Linked DNA regions of Homo sapiens. The protein of the gene in region 1 purifies or fractionates together with the protein of each later gene. This does not show direct contact. Each region holds a gene or a part of one and is shown in the gene's direction. Other genes may lie near its edges.

Evidence for each region. The genes of interacting proteins can lie anywhere in the genome.
Region 2: the proteins of EIF4ENIF1 (region 1) and NISCH purify together in Homo sapiens (affinity purification with mass spectrometry, with the first as the bait; one large-scale study listed by BioGRID). This does not show direct contact.
Region 3: the proteins of EIF4ENIF1 (region 1) and KIAA1671 purify together in Homo sapiens (affinity purification with mass spectrometry, with the first as the bait; one large-scale study listed by BioGRID). This does not show direct contact.
Region 4: the proteins of EIF4ENIF1 (region 1) and POM121C purify together in Homo sapiens (affinity purification with mass spectrometry, with the first as the bait; one large-scale study listed by BioGRID). This does not show direct contact.

The regions. Positions count from the first base shown.
Region 1 is NC_000022.11:31,438,787-31,441,878, reverse strand, and holds the end of EIF4ENIF1 (eukaryotic translation initiation factor 4E transporter), read left to right. Parts: coding exon 1-105; intron 106-1,010; coding exon 1,011-1,175; intron 1,176-1,757; coding exon 1,758-1,999; 3' UTR 2,000-2,512; downstream 2,513-3,092. UniProt on the Homo sapiens protein: EIF4E-binding protein that regulates translation and stability of mRNAs in processing bodies (P-bodies). Plays a key role in P-bodies to coordinate the storage of translationally inactive mRNAs in the cytoplasm and prevent their degradation.
Region 2 is NC_000003.12:52,483,006-52,486,609, forward strand, and holds part of NISCH (nischarin), read left to right. Parts: intron 1-1,507; coding exon 1,508-1,632; intron 1,633-2,772; coding exon 2,773-2,822; intron 2,823-3,604. UniProt on the Homo sapiens protein: Acts either as the functional imidazoline-1 receptor (I1R) candidate or as a membrane-associated mediator of the I1R signaling.
Region 3 is NC_000022.11:24,959,118-24,962,721, forward strand, and holds part of KIAA1671 (uncharacterized protein KIAA1671), read left to right. Parts: intron 1-3,604.
Region 4 is NC_000007.14:75,483,494-75,487,845, reverse strand, and holds the start of POM121C (nuclear envelope pore membrane protein POM 121C), read left to right. Parts: upstream 1-1,546; 5' UTR 1,547-1,982; intron 1,983-3,526; exon of another isoform or gene 3,527-3,648; intron 3,649-4,352. UniProt on the Homo sapiens protein: Essential component of the nuclear pore complex (NPC). The repeat-containing domain may be involved in anchoring components of the pore complex to the pore membrane. When overexpressed in cells induces the formation of cytoplasmic annulate lamellae (AL).

The DNA.
Region 1 (3,092 bases):
ATGTCCCTATGGTTAGGCCTGCTCACCAGCTTCACCCAGGGTTGGTACAGAGGATGCTGGCCCAGGGAGTACATCCACAGCATCTTCCAAGTTTGCTCCAAACTGGTGAGTTTCCAGCCTGACTTGGGTGTCGTCAGTTTGTGGGCCTAGGGGACAATTGTTGGCACTGATGAAGTGCTATAATGTGGGAGATTTCCATCCCTAGAAAGATGTTACTAGATTCTCCCATCTAACTGGCAGGCAGTGGGCCCAATCCAGTCAATCCCCTAGTCCTTTAAAAGATTAGGAACCTAGCTTGAAGATTCTTTTTTTTTTTTTTTTTTTTTTTCCTTTTTGTAGAGACAGAAGTCTCACTCTGTCTGCCTGGCTGGAGTGCAGTGGCGCAATCTCAGCTCACTGCAACCTCTGCCTCCTGAGTTCAAGCAATTCTCCTGCCTCAGCCTCCCGAGTAGCTGGGACTACAGGTGCACGCCGCCACACCCGGATAATTTATTTTGTATTTTAGTAGAGACAGGATTTCACCGTGTTGCCCAGGCTGGTCTCAAACTCCTAAGTTTAGGCAGTCCACCCACATCGGCCTCCCAAAGTGTCAGGATTACAGGCGTGAGCCAGAGAATTCTTCATTCTTTTTTGAGTCTCGCTCTGTCGCCCAGGCTAGAGTGCAGTGGCGCGATCTCTGCTCACTGCAACCTCTGCCTCTCCCGAGTTCTAGGTCCCTGCCTCAGCCTTCCGAGTAGCTGGGATTACAGGCGCCTGCCACTACACCTGGCTAATTTTTGTATTTTTAGTAGAGACAGGGTTTCACCATGTTGGCCATACTGGTCTCGAACTCCTGACCTCGTGGTCCGCCTGCTTTGGCCTCCCAAAGTGCTGGGGATTACAGGCGTGAGCCACTGCGCAGAGCCCTTCATTCTTAACAAACTTCCAGATCAGCAAAACTGTACAGTGAAGCTGGAAAACTTCCAGGTAACATTAAGACTACTCAGCTGCTTGCTTTTTCTGCTCAACAGGTGTGCTTCCTCCTGGGATGGACTTGAGTCATTTACAGGGAATATCTGGCCCCATCCTGGGTCAGCCCTTTTACCCTTTACCTGCTGCTAGTCACCCTCTCTTAAACCCTCGTCCTGGAACACCTCTGCATCTGGCAATGGTGCAACAGCAGCTACAGCGCTCAGGTAGGTTCAGGAATGTGACAGGTGAGTTTGGGACGGACTTAGGGAGTCTTGAAGCTTTGAGGACTAGTTTCCAGTGGAGATGAATTAACACTTTCATTCTTTAACTTGTTCTAAGTTTGGGACAAAGTGTAACCAGATAATAAGATGAAGTAAATTGACCTCTATGCAATTTGGGATTACTGTTCCTGCAAAGTCAGTGGGAAAAGCCAAGTGTTTTCTGGCTTTTTCCTTTGCCTGTTAGGAGAGAGGGCTGAGAATCCAACAGAGGTTCAGCATCCGGCCTGCCCAGGGTATATACCCCCTCACCAGTTCATGTTGCTGCTTCTGTGATGTGGTTACTTAGCCATGAGAAGTAGCGGTCATGTCATCCAGGGTGGGTTTTCAATACTGGTAGCTTCTGAATAGCTCAGCTTTCCATGGTACTGTTTTCTGGCATTGTTGGTATTTTGCAAAGGAGTTTCTAAAGAAGCCCTAGAAAAAATCCTCTAGTAAAGACTTTTCTTTGGATAGGGTTTGAATGAAGCAGGGTCTAATAAACTTTCCTTCTCATGCTGTGAATGATAACCCTTCTTATCTCCACAGTTCTGCATCCTCCAGGCTCTGGTTCCCATGCAGCAGCTGTCAGCGTTCAGACAACCCCTCAGAACGTGCCCAGCCGGTCAGGCCTGCCCCACATGCACTCCCAGCTGGAGCATCGCCCCAGCCAGAGGAGCAGCTCCCCTGTGGGCCTTGCCAAATGGTTTGGCTCAGATGTGCTACAGCAACCCCTGCCCTCCATGCCCGCCAAAGTTATCAGTGTAGATGAATTGGAATACCGACAGTGAGCAGGGCAGGCAGACTCAACTAAGCCCGGACCTGTGGTGGCACACTGGGCAGGACCCTGCTTCATCTCGGGTTGGTTTATGGGCTTTTACTTTGGAGCACTCTGTGTGAAGCTGTTTGGTGGAACCCATGCATCTGGTGTGGTCCGCATTATGATGGAAGGATCTTAACCAGTCGAGTGGAGTGTACATTGTCTGAATACAGGATGCACAATGTTGTCAATCCTGGAAATGGTCTTTCTTTTTTGTAAGATATGTGAATGAAGTGTTGGTGTCCTCACCAAGAGGTGGCACCTAAGGGTTCTGAGGAAATAAATGTATAGACCCTTATGTACAGACCTGTGTATAAACAACTTTTGTATATACATATAGGATAGCTTTTTTGAACTATACAGCTGTACATAAAAGTAGCTGATATTAGTTAGGCCTGTGTCAACAGTTTGGATTTTTTTCACTTGTACATTTGGGATTTTCTTTTGGTTGATTAAAATTGCATATGCTAAGTGTGTGAATGAAGTAACTGACATTGTTGTGTTTATTTCCTCTCTGAAACCCTTCCTAATTTTGTTTGGAGACAGGGTCTCACTCTGTGTCACCCAGGCTGGAGTACAGTGGTGCAATCGTGGCTCACTGCAGCTTCAACCTCCTGGGCTCAAGCGATCCTCTCACCTCAGCCTCCCAAGTAGATGGAACTACAGGCACATGCCACTAACTTTTTTCTTATTTTTTGTAGAGGCAGGGTCTTACCATGTAGCCCAAGCTAGTCTTCCTAATTTCTAACCAGCCAAGCTATGCTCAGTATGTTCCTTTAAGGAAGTGATCTGAAGTTTAAGTAAGTTAAGTTTTTCTTGAAAACCCATGGAAATTGGGCACTGTGGCTCACGCCTGTAATCTCAGCACTCTGGGAGGCAGAGGCAGGCGAATCACAAGGTCAAGAGATCAAGACCATCCTAGCCAAGATGGTGAAATCCCATCTCTACTAAAAATACAAAACTAGCTGGGCATGGTGGCCCACACTTGTAGTCCCAGCTACTCGGGAGGCTGAGACAGAAGAATCGCCTGAACCTGGGAGGCAGAGGTTGCAGTGAGCTGAGAT
Region 2 (3,604 bases), on another chromosome or scaffold:
GCAGTGGAGGTGGTGTCTGAGGTGAATCTCGAAGGTGAATAGGAGTTGAACGTTAGCAGGCAGAGGGTGGATTGCAGGAGAGCAGCGGCCTGGGCAGGTGCCCAGCGTGGCCCATCAGGGTGCTTCATGCATGGCTGTGTGCTTGCCATCCTTCCTGCCTGCCTACCCCCTGCTGCTTCGCTTCGTGGGGGCGTTTGAGCTTGGGCCCACCTGCCTGCCTCGCTTGTGGGCAGAGGACCCAGGCTGTGTGAGTTGTCCTGTCCCGGGGAGCAGCTGAGCTGGTCGGGGGTCTCGACCTGTGGGGCTCAGAGGACTCGGGGTCATTTCACTGGGCTGTGGCGATGCTGGGCTGTGGAGGTAGGCCTAGGGCTCCTGTAGGCCTCAGTGAGACTGGCGGCCGATGCCCAGTGTTCACCCTGCTGGCGGCAGTCAGGAACATGTTCACAAAGGCTTTACCTTCAAGTGGTCTAGAGGTGATCTGAGGTGGAGTAACAGGTCCAGATAGGCTACGTTCATAAAACAGCTTCAGCGGGGTTTAGGAACACTGTGCATTTACGGGACGCAGTGGGTCAGAGTGCTGCTGTCCGTGGGAGGTGGCCCCAGGGCAGGTCAGTGGGCACGTCCTGTGGTAAGTGGGACTGTGGATGTGGGCTCAGGCTGGACTCAGCAGCCCTGCTGGATACCAAGGCCTGCAAGGGCTGGCCCCCTGGTGAATTGTCCCGTGCCCTGTGTATCTATGAGTCCTGCAGAGATGACAAATCAGGGGACGGGGTCATGTCTAGTCACCGTCTGGGAAAATGCTCCAGGAGTGAACACATTTCAGGCTCTTGATGGATGTACCTCCAAACTCTTCTCTGGATGGGTGGGCCAGCTTGCATGCCTGTGCCGGCCTCTGCCCAGCGAGGTCAGGGCCAGGCCACACAGTCAGTCTGACTTTGGCAGAAGTTGAGAGGCAACACTTGTCTCTTGTTTCAGCTTGCCTTTCTTTGTGTACTTCTGAGAGCGAGCATTCTTTTCATGTTCTATCCGCTGGCCGTTCTTCTGCGGAATGTCTGTTCACGTCCTTTGCAGTCTGTTAATGAGGTTTCCAACCTTCCCTCATTTTTGTAATCTGTAAGAACTTTTTACAGACTAGCGATATAAATCCTTGTCAAATATTGCAAACACTTTTCTCATTTCATCTGGTTTTAATCTATCCTGGTTTTTAAAAAATGTGTCTGTGGAAGTTTAATTTTTATGTAGTCACATCTCAGTTTTTTTCCATTGCATTTATTCTCAGAATGCTTCTCCCTGCCCTGAGATTAGATAAGCAGTCATTTGTTCTTTCTTGAGTTATTTTGAGATTTCAGTTTTAACATTTTCTTCTATAATCCATGTGGCTGGGTTTTGGGATCTGGCTAACCCCCGCCATGCCAGTAGCCTGAGGGGCCCAGCCCCACTTGTTGAACAGCCGCTCTCCCCGCCCCACCCACCCTGCCTGCCTGCCCACCCGCCCTGGTCTCTCCAGGAATCATGTTCGTTCAGGAGGAGGCCCTGGCCAGCAGCCTCTCGTCCACTGACAGTCTGACTCCCGAGCACCAGCCCATTGCCCAGGGATGTTCTGATTCCTTGGAGTCCATCCCTGCGGGACAGGTAATGCCCTCTTCCCGCTTCTGGGGACCATACATCTGTGGGTGGACTCTTCTGCTTGGGGTTGTGTGCAGTAGGAAGTGGCCTAGCTGGAGCTGAGGCAGATGCTTCCAGGGTTTGGCGTCCTCTGCTTTGTGCCACGGTCTTTCTCTTGGACCTGTCTCTGGTTGAGTGTCTTCCTGACAAACACAGTGGTTAAGGGTTTATTTTCAGCCTCCCTCCTTCCCTTCCCCACCCACCTTGGTTGATGGGAACAGGCAGTTCTCTGTCACTGGGCCCAGGGCACGAGGGGGGCAGGTGGAGAGGGTGGCCCTTGACCCTGTGAGCAGGCTTCCCTGGGGAAGGCATTTCAAAAGACCCTCGTGCAGGGGCTTGTTTGGGTTTCTTCTCTGTTTCCTGGCACCCCTGGAGCCACTCGGCGCCTTTCCGCATGTCACCCTGGTGGTCTGGGAAACAGTCTCACTCTGGCGCCTCCTCTGTGGTTGTTACTGAGAGTTCTGGGGCCCCTTCCTTTGTCCTGAGGAAAGACAGGAGGAAAGCAAGGGTGCTTGCTGTGTGCTTCGCAAATGTGCTTGGTGCCTGGGCCTCCCTCCAGCCCCATCTCTGCAGCAGCACAAGGTTATGGCCTTGTGACACTGGGACAGTTTGCAGAGTCCTTGTCTGTCCTCAGTACTCCACAGTATTCTGCCATCACCCTTTCCAGGGTCACACAGCAAGAGATTCCCAAGCCCTAGGTATTCCCCAGTGCACAGAGACCATTGGGAGGGACTTGCCAGGGCTGTGTCCACTGCTGGCCAGTTAGGGTCGGACCAAATTTGTAGACTGTCTACCTGGACCCTTGCGTGGCACAAGGAGCAGTCAGATGCTGGATCCCTGGAGAGTGGCGAGAGGCTCTGGCCCTAGGTTGCGAGTGGGAATCCCAGCCCTGCTGTGTGCTGGTGGGATAACCAAGTGGGTCTCTGCCCTTGGGTCCCAGAGTGGGCCCCAGGGTCCCAGAGTGGGCTCCAGGGTACAGCGTGGGGATGGGGAGCCTCCTCAGGGCGGTGATGGAGGGCAGAATGCCCAGCTCAGGGTCTGGCAACCAGTAAATGGCTGGGGCTGGCTGCAGTAGGTGGGGACTGACTGTGTTTCTTTCTCCATCAGGCAGCTTCCGATGATTTAAGGGACGTGCCAGGAGCTGTTGGTGGTGCAAGGTAAGGAAGAGGTTGGAAAGGGACCTGGGCCTGGCCACACAGCCTTATGCACACACACTGCTGTGGGCCAGGGGTGGCCAGTCAGGTTTTTTTAAAAATCCGTTCACAGAAGGCCTATAGAACTATTTCTTCCTCTAAAGAGACACAGATGAGATGGACTTTTCAATCTGTTTCCAAATTCTAATACCTAAACTCTGCTCAGCACATGTTGCCCTACACCAGGGGTTGGCAAATCAAGGCCTGTGTGTGGCCCACAGCCTGGGAGCTAAGAATGACAGTTACATTCTTTTTTCTTTTTTTGAGACTGAGTCTCGCTCTGTCGCCCAGGCTGGAGTGCAGTGGCGTGTTCTTGGCTCACTGCAACCCCCGCCTCCCAGATTAATGCAATTTTCCTGTCTCAGCCTCAGCCTTCTGAGTAGCCCGGACCACAGGCGCACGCCACCACGCCCAACTAATTTTTTATATTTTTAGTAGAGACAGAGATTCACCATGTTGCCTAGCTGGTCTCGAACTCCTGAACTCCAGTGATCCACCAACCTCGGCCTCCTAAAGTACTGGAATTACAGGCATGAGCCACCGCGCCTGGCTAGAATAACAGTTACTTTTTTTTTCTTTGAGACTGAGTCTTGCTTTGTCACCCAGGCTGGAGTGCAGTGGCCCGATCTCAGCTCGCTGCAACCTCCGCCTCCCGGGTTCAAGCGATTCTTCTGCCTCAGCCACCCAAGGTGCCCGCCACCACACCTGGCTAATTTTTCTGTTTTTAGTAGGGACAGGATTTCGCC
Region 3 (3,604 bases), 6.5 Mb from region 1:
GCACCACTGCACTTTAGCCTGAGACAGAGTGAGTCCTTGTCTCAAATAAATAAATACATAAATACATAAAAATTTAAAAAATTAAAATTAAAAATAAAAGGAAGCTGGTCAAGCACAGTGACTCAAACCTGTAATCTCAGCACTTTGGGAGTCAGAGGTGGGCGGATCACTTGAGGGCAGGAGTTTGAGACCAGCATGGCCAACATGGTGAAACCCCATCTCTACTAAAAAAAAATAAAAATAAAATTAAAAAAAATTAGCTAGGCGTGATGGCAGTTGCCTGTAATCCCAGCTATTCAGGAGGCTGAGGCATGAGAATCACTTGAACCTGGGAGGTGGAGTTTGCAGTGAGCTAGATGGTGCCACTGCACTCCAGCCTGGGCAACAGAGTGAGACTCTGTCTCAAAAAGTAAAAATAAAAGGAAGCTAACAAACAATCGAGGCACATACACACACACACACATATATATATTTTTTCCTTCAATGCAATGAATATTTTATTGAGCATCTTATGTGGGCAAGGCACTCTATTTGTGAAAAATTCAAAAGATCACCTGCCCTTAGGAATCCTCTGGTCAACTGTACGAGAAGAAGGAAGGGGGCAAGGTGAGACAAGTAAGCAAATAATTATGGACTTGACTTCTGGGCAGAAGCTATCACAGCTACATTTGTTAATTGCTCAGTTAAGTGACCTTTGAAATGTTCTATAGCCATGTCTCCATTAAGAATATGAAATACGGCCGGGCGCGGTGGCTCACGCCTGTAATCCCAGCACTTTGGGACCCCGAGGGAGGTGGATCATTTGAGGTCAGGAGTTCGAAACCAGCCTGGCCAACATGGTGAAACCCCGTCTCTACTAAAAATACAAAAATTAGCCAGGTGTGGTGGCGCCTGTGGTCCCAGCTACTCGTGGGGCTGAGGCGGGAGGATCACTTGTACCTGGGAGGGAGATTGCAGTGAATCGAGATCATACCACTGCACTGCAGCCTGGCGACAGAGTGAGACTCCGTCTCAAATAAATAAATAAATAAATAAATAAATAAATAAATAAAATAAAACAAATAATTTCACACGTGAATTAAAAATAGATTTAGGTACTTTCCCATTTCAGAATGTGTTGATTTACCTCATTATTTTTAAAAGCTGAATAAGGCCAGCTGTGGTGGCTCGGGCCTGTAATCCCAGCACTTTAGGCGGCCGGGCGGATCACTTGAGGTCAGGGGTTCAAGACCAGCCTGGTCAACATGGTGAAACCCCATCTCTACTAAAAATACAAAAATTAGCCAGGCATGGTGGCACGCGCCTGTAATCCCAGCTACTCGGGAGGCTGAGGCAGGAGAATTGCTTGAACCCAGGGAGGCGAGTGTTGCAGTGAGCTGAGATCGCGCCACTGCACTTTAGCCTGGGTGACAGGGCAAGACTCCGTCTCAAAAAAAAAAAAAAAAAAGAAAAAACTGAATAATTTCCAGTGCATGAGGTGCTATGAGCTTATTTAACCGATCCCCTGTTGATGGACATTGAGTTGTTTTTCAGGTTCTTTTTTTTTTTTTTTTTTTTTTGCTATGACCGAGTGCCGCAGTTAACATCCCTGTTGACATGTCTTTGCACATTTGTTGTAGTAGGCTGGAGGACAGATTTCCAGGATGTGGAACTTTAGGGAGGAAGGGTGTTTAGAACGTTGAAATGACCTGCCCAATTTCCCAGCAGAGTGGCTATACCTTTCACACTCTTACCACAGCTGTGCGAGAGACAGCCTCTTTGTATATTTCAGAGAGAAGGAACAGTGTTTGGCTGTCTCTTGTCTTTGGCCATAGGACATGGCCTCTGGCCTGAGGGAAGGTGAGAGTTCTTATAAGTGACAACATTTTGTTGCCCTTGGGGTTCTTTTTGTTGTTGTTGTTTTTGTTTTGAGACAGGGTCTTGCTCTTTCATCCAGGCTGGAATGCAGTGGTGCGATCTCAGTTCACTGCAGTCTCAACCTCCTGGGCTCAGGTGGTCCTCCCACCTCAGCCTCCCAAGTAGCTGGGATTACAGGCATGCACCACCACGCCTGGCTAATTTTTGTAGAGACGAGATTTTGCCACATTACCCAGGCTAGTTTCAAACTCCTCAAGCGATCCTGCTGCCTCAGCCTCCCAAAGTGGTAGGATTGCAGATGTGAGCCACCACACCCAGCCTGGCCCTTGGGTTTTAATACAAACTGCTGGAGACTCTGTCTCGGAAGATATTTGCCCATGTACACACGAGTCTTTCTGGACATACGTGGTCCCTGTATTAGTCAAGCTTTTCTGTGATCATACTGTGTAACAAACATCTCCTACATCGCAGTGGCCTTTAACAGCAAACATTTGTTTCATGCTCACGAGTCAGCAGGTAGCTTGGCTGACCTTAGCTAGGCTTCACCAGCAAGGCTGGCCCTAGGCTTTGGATTGGGTTCAGGTCTGGCTCGTGAATCTTCATCCAGATTCACAGGCTGAAGGGTGGCAGCCAGCCAGGGCGTGTTCTTCTGTGGTGGACAACAGAAGCCTCCGTTCTGAACTGAGAAGCTGTCACTTCTGCTCTCATGCTATAGGCTGAAGCAAGTCACGTGGCAAGCCTGACATCAATGAGTTGAAGTCTACTCCTCTCATGGAGGCTGAAGAAACATTTGCTGAGCAATAATAGAACCTGCCACAATTATGTTTCTGATGGGGTAGGACGGGTCCTTGCAGGAGTAGAGGGTCTGCCTGGAGGGCATGGGTAAGAATCATGGCTCATGATTTGTGTGGGACAAGTGGTCGCAGAGCAGAGGCTCTGGGTAAGGAGACCTGGTTTGAGTTTATAACCAGAGACAGGCAGTTCACCAACTGAGTCTCAGTTTCCTTATCTGGAAAATGGGAATAATTTGTCTTCTCTGGCGAGCTGCTGGGAAGCTCAGAGATATTACTGCATAAGAAGGTGCTTTATACCTGTGAGGCGAGATGGGAAATGAGGGATGATTGTCTTGATGATGATTTTTGTGCTGGAGCTGGCTTACAATCCCCTGAGCAGTGACACCTGTAGCCAGTAGAGTGAGAGAACGCAGCGACGCCAAGGTGAGACTGGGAGGGATAGGCCTGGGTTTGAATCCCAGCTGTGCTCGTTGTGGGCCACGTGACTTTTGATCAGCCTCATCACATCCCTCAGCCTCAGTTTGCCTGTCTGTAAAAGGGTCACAGTGTGCTTGTGCCCATTAACGAGGACTGTGAAATGCTTGGCATGAGGTAGATGATAACCAGATGGTGGCTGTGAGGATTGGCATGGAGCTGAGGGGGTCCTGATAGGGGCAGAATGAGGAATTCCGCCACCCATTCCCTTGGGAATATTGCAGGGAACCTGGAGCCGGACTGCTTGGATTCAAATCCCAGCTCCACCGCTTACCAGCTGTGTGGCCTTATGCAAGGCAGTTAACCACTCTGGGCCTCAGTTTTCTCATCTGTAAGCTGGGAGTAATAAGAGAGCTGGCCTCATGAGGTTGACAAGCATTAAATGTGTTAACACATATGGCACTTGCTAATGAATTTACATGAGCCTTAGCTAGTATCGTTAGGATTACTAGTATTATTATTAGTCTACGGAGGCCCAG
Region 4 (4,352 bases), on another chromosome or scaffold:
GTTTCCACAATCCCCCTTATCTTAACTCAAACTTTTCCTTCTTTTTTTTCCCTCCCTCTTTTTCCTTCCTTCCTCTCTCTCTTTTTCTCTCTCTCTCTTTCTTTTCTTCTCTGTTGCCCAAGCTGGAATGCAGTGGTGCCATCATGGCTCACTGTAGCCTCAACTTCCCAGGCTCAAGCGATCCTCCCATCTCAGCCTCCTGAGTAGCTGAGTCTACAGGCATGCACCACCACACCTGGATAATTATTTTTTTTTTTGTAGAAGTGGGGGTCTCGCTGTGTTGCCCAGGCTGTCCTTGAACTCCTGGCCTCAAGGGATCCTCCCAGCTCACCCTCCCAAAATGCTGGGAATACAGGCATGAGCCACCGCAATGGCCCATTTCTTTATGTAGTCTTCCAGCTGTTCAGCCAACACTTAACTCTGAACCAACTGCCAGTCTTTCAATCTACTAGTGACCTGAAAGCCTTTCCTGGCTGACCCAACATATACTTCCCATGTATTGATTTATGTCTTTGCCTGTAACTACTGTCTCCCTAAGATGCATAAAACCAAGCTGTAACCCAACTACTTTGGGCTCACGTTCTCAGGACCCCCTGAGGCTGTGTCACCAGCCATGGTCACTCAAATAGGAGGCCCAGAATAAAACTCTTTATAGACTTTGACTCTTTTTGGTCAACATAACCTAACCCTAAACATAATCCTCCTGGGGAAGGTAGGATCACAGGTATCTCTTCCTCGTTCAGTTTGTGTGTGTATGTCCTTATTTCTCTACGGTTTTTAGGCATTCGCTGTGTGATCTAGAAAAGCTATGGAGTCTCGCTTTGTCGCCAGGATGGAGTGCAGTGGCGTGATCTCGGCTCACTGCAACCTCCACCTCCCAGGTTCAAGTGATTCTCCTGCCTTAGCCTCCCGAGTAGCTGGGATTACAGGCACGCGCCACCACGCCCAGCTAATTTTTGTATTTTTAGTAGAGACAGGGTTTCATCATGTTGGCCAGGATGATCTCTATCTCTTGACCTCGCGATCTGCCCGCCTCGGCCTCCCAAAGTGCTGGGATTACAGGCTTGAGCCACTGCGCCCAGCTACAAATTCTATTTTCTTTTTGTTCCTTGGAAAGCATCGCTGGGCATTTATCCTGTCCCAGTATTTGAGTGAAACTTCTCAGCATTTCAGAGCAGTGACCATGATACACCCTTTCCTTTCCTTCTCCTTATGGGAAACTCCGTTCTAACCCAGAGGACTTGGGCTCCAGGACCCAGTAACGGAGCCCTGGATTTGACCCTAAAAGGGAGTAAAGACAAAGGTGAAGTTCAGTCCGGGGTTCAGGGCTGCCAAAGCTCATAGCCTGGAGCTTCTTAACCTTTAGGCAGGGTAGAGACATTTAAGACGGCCCCAAAACTGGGGGAGCGCGTAGGCTCCTGGGAAATAGAGTCCGTTACTTGTCCTGGGACCCGCGGTGGGTGTCCCGGGAGGCGGACTTCCGGTGCACTCCTGCGCTTGTGCACCTCTCCCTGCGTGCGTGTTCGCACATGCGCGCCACCTCCGCACTGCCCTCGCTTCCTGTGCCTCTTCAGGTCATCGCTTGCTCTCGTTCCCAGGCTTTGGCTTCTAGTGGACGAGAATCACCGAGTCTGCGGGGCTGGATGCTGACCGCCCGGACCAGCACCTAGGCGGGCGGGAGCTGTGCGGCCCAGGGTTCGCGCGGGCCGGGTAGAGGCTCGAGCTGGGACCCCCGAGCGTGAACCCCGGAGCCGGCGGCGCTGGGGCCAGAGGGGCCGGGAGCCCCAGGGAGGCGGATCTGGGCCCCGAGAAGGACACCCGCCTGGATTTGCCCCGTAGGCCCGGCCCGGGCCCCTCGGGAGCAGAACAGCCTTGGTGAGGTGGACAGGAGGGGACCTCGCGAGCAGACGCGCGCGCCAGCGACAGCAGCCCGCCCCGGCCTCTCGGGAGCCGTGGGGCAGAGGCTGCGGAGCCCCAGGAGGGTAAGTCTTGGGTTTTTGGGCCCGGAGCGAGAAGGGCCTGGGTGAAGTCACCTTGTGTTGGGGACCTTTGAGTGTGGGGCAGAGGGAGGGTCCCGATTGCTTGCCGGAGAGACATGTGTTGGGTTTGAGGGCAGGGTCCGGCTGCACCGAACAGGTGCTGCATGGGAAGATCTGGGAGGACGAGGCTTACGGAGGCGTGGAGGGTGTCACCACCCTCAGCTGCGGACGTCGTCTCCACTCCCCGCTAACCCCTAACAGTCCTTCCTCCTCCTCTCCGTGCTCCAGATTTCGACCGCCTCTAAACGTCCGTCAGCACTTCTATTCTCTCACTTAAGTGTCTGCTGATCCCCCCCCTTAGACCTGCCCTGGGAGAATCGTAGTAATGCAGGAACAGTCTGCAGGGATTCTCTGCTGCTGCCTCAGTTGCTAGGGGAAGAGACTGGGCCTTAGGTGGGTGACTTGACCAGGTCACCGGCTTTGTGGGTAGAGCTGCTCATAGTAGAACCCAGGAGACTTATCTCCCAGGCCAGTGTTCTTTCTCCCGTATCCTAGTTTTCTTAATAGAAGATTATTAGGTGCAGCAATAACCAAGTTCAGTTAGATAATTTAGAAACAAAACCATATTTTATACACATTCATTTCATTTCTGAGAGCTCACATACTCAATTCCTATGGCTTATTTTATTTTAAGCAGTTTAAAGAGACAATAAGAAAATGCGGGCGGGATGCAGTGGCTCACACCTGTAATCCGAGCATTTTGCGGGGCTAGGGCAAGAGTATCCCTTGAGACCAGGAGTTAGAGACCAGCCTAGACAACATGGGGACACCCTGACTACAAAAAATACAAAAGTCGCCAGGCATGCTGGGATGCATCTGTGGTCCCAGCTACTCAGGAGGCTGAAGTGGGAGGATGGATGGAGCCCAGGAGGTCGAGGCTGCAGAGAGCCGTGAATGCACCACTGCACTCCAGCCTGGGTGGCAGATTGAGACCCTGTCTCAACCAACAAACCACAAAAAACATGAGCCGTATAATGGGAATTTTTTTTCTTTTTGCGCCTTGTATTTGATGATGATGGCAGACTATTTGTAAAAGGAGTCATGTTACCCATGAGAGTCTAACTCATCTAATTACTACCTGATTATCTTAGAGTTACAGGCGCATGCTTCCCCTATCACTCTTTTTTTTTTTTTTTTTTTTTTTGAGACAGTGTCTCTCACCCAGTCTGGAATGCAACAGCGTGGTCTCGGCTCACTGCAACTTCCACCTCCCAGGTTCAAAGGATTCTCGTGCCTCAGCCTCCTGAGTAGCTGGGACTACAGGCATGTGACTCTATGCCTGGCTAATTTTTTTTGTTATTTTTAAGTAGAGACGGGGTTTTGCCATGTTGGCCCAGGCAGGCGGATCACTTGAGGCCAGAATTTGAGACCAGCCTGGCCAACATGGTGAAACCCTGTATCACTCTTTTAGACCCTTCTGAGTGTTTGCAGGTTGAGTGTTCACAGGGTGTTAGCCTATTGAGCTTTCTTTTGCGGTTCTTATGCAGGTGATTTCTGCCTTTGCAGGCCGGAGCCCTCATGACTTCAGTGACCTGCTTCTGCCCCTCTAGGTCTATCAGCCACAGTCTCTGCATGTTTCCAAGAGCAGCAGAAAATGAACACATTGCAGGTGAGTTTTCCTGCTTGTGTATATGTTCCTCAACTTTATTTTATGATGCATTTTAAGAGGTTTGTAAGGATTCATACTTTTTTTTTTCTTTTTTTTGAGATGGAGTCTTGCTCTGTTGCCCAGGCTGCAGTGCAGTGGCATGATCTCGCTTCACTGCAACCTCCACCTCCTGGGTTCAAGTGATTCTCCTGCCTCAGCCTCCTGAGTAGCAGGGATTACAGGCGTGGGCCACCATGCCCAGCTAATTTTTTGTATTTTTAGAAGAGATGGGGTTTCACTATGTTGGCCAGGTTGGTCTCAAACTCCTGACCTCAGGTGATCCTCCCGCCTCAGCCTCCCAAAGTGCTGGGATTACAGGCATGAGCCACCGAGCCCAGCCAGGATTCATACTTTAAAATGGGAATGTGGAAATAGACATTATCCTGTAAAATATAGTTAGTGTGGCAGATCAGCACCAAAAATGATTTGTGAAGCTTGTATGTATGGGTAGTATATTTTAAGGCTGTTGAAATTGAGCCGCACCTAGGACTGATACTCTTGGCAGTCATCACAAAAGGAAAATGCCATCTGTATTAGTCCATTCTCACACTGCTATAGAGAAATAACCAAGACTGGGTAATTTATAAAGAAAAGAGGTTTAATTGGCTCACGTCTGCAGGCTCTATCATAGGAAGCGTGGCTGAGGAGTCCTCAGGAAACTTACA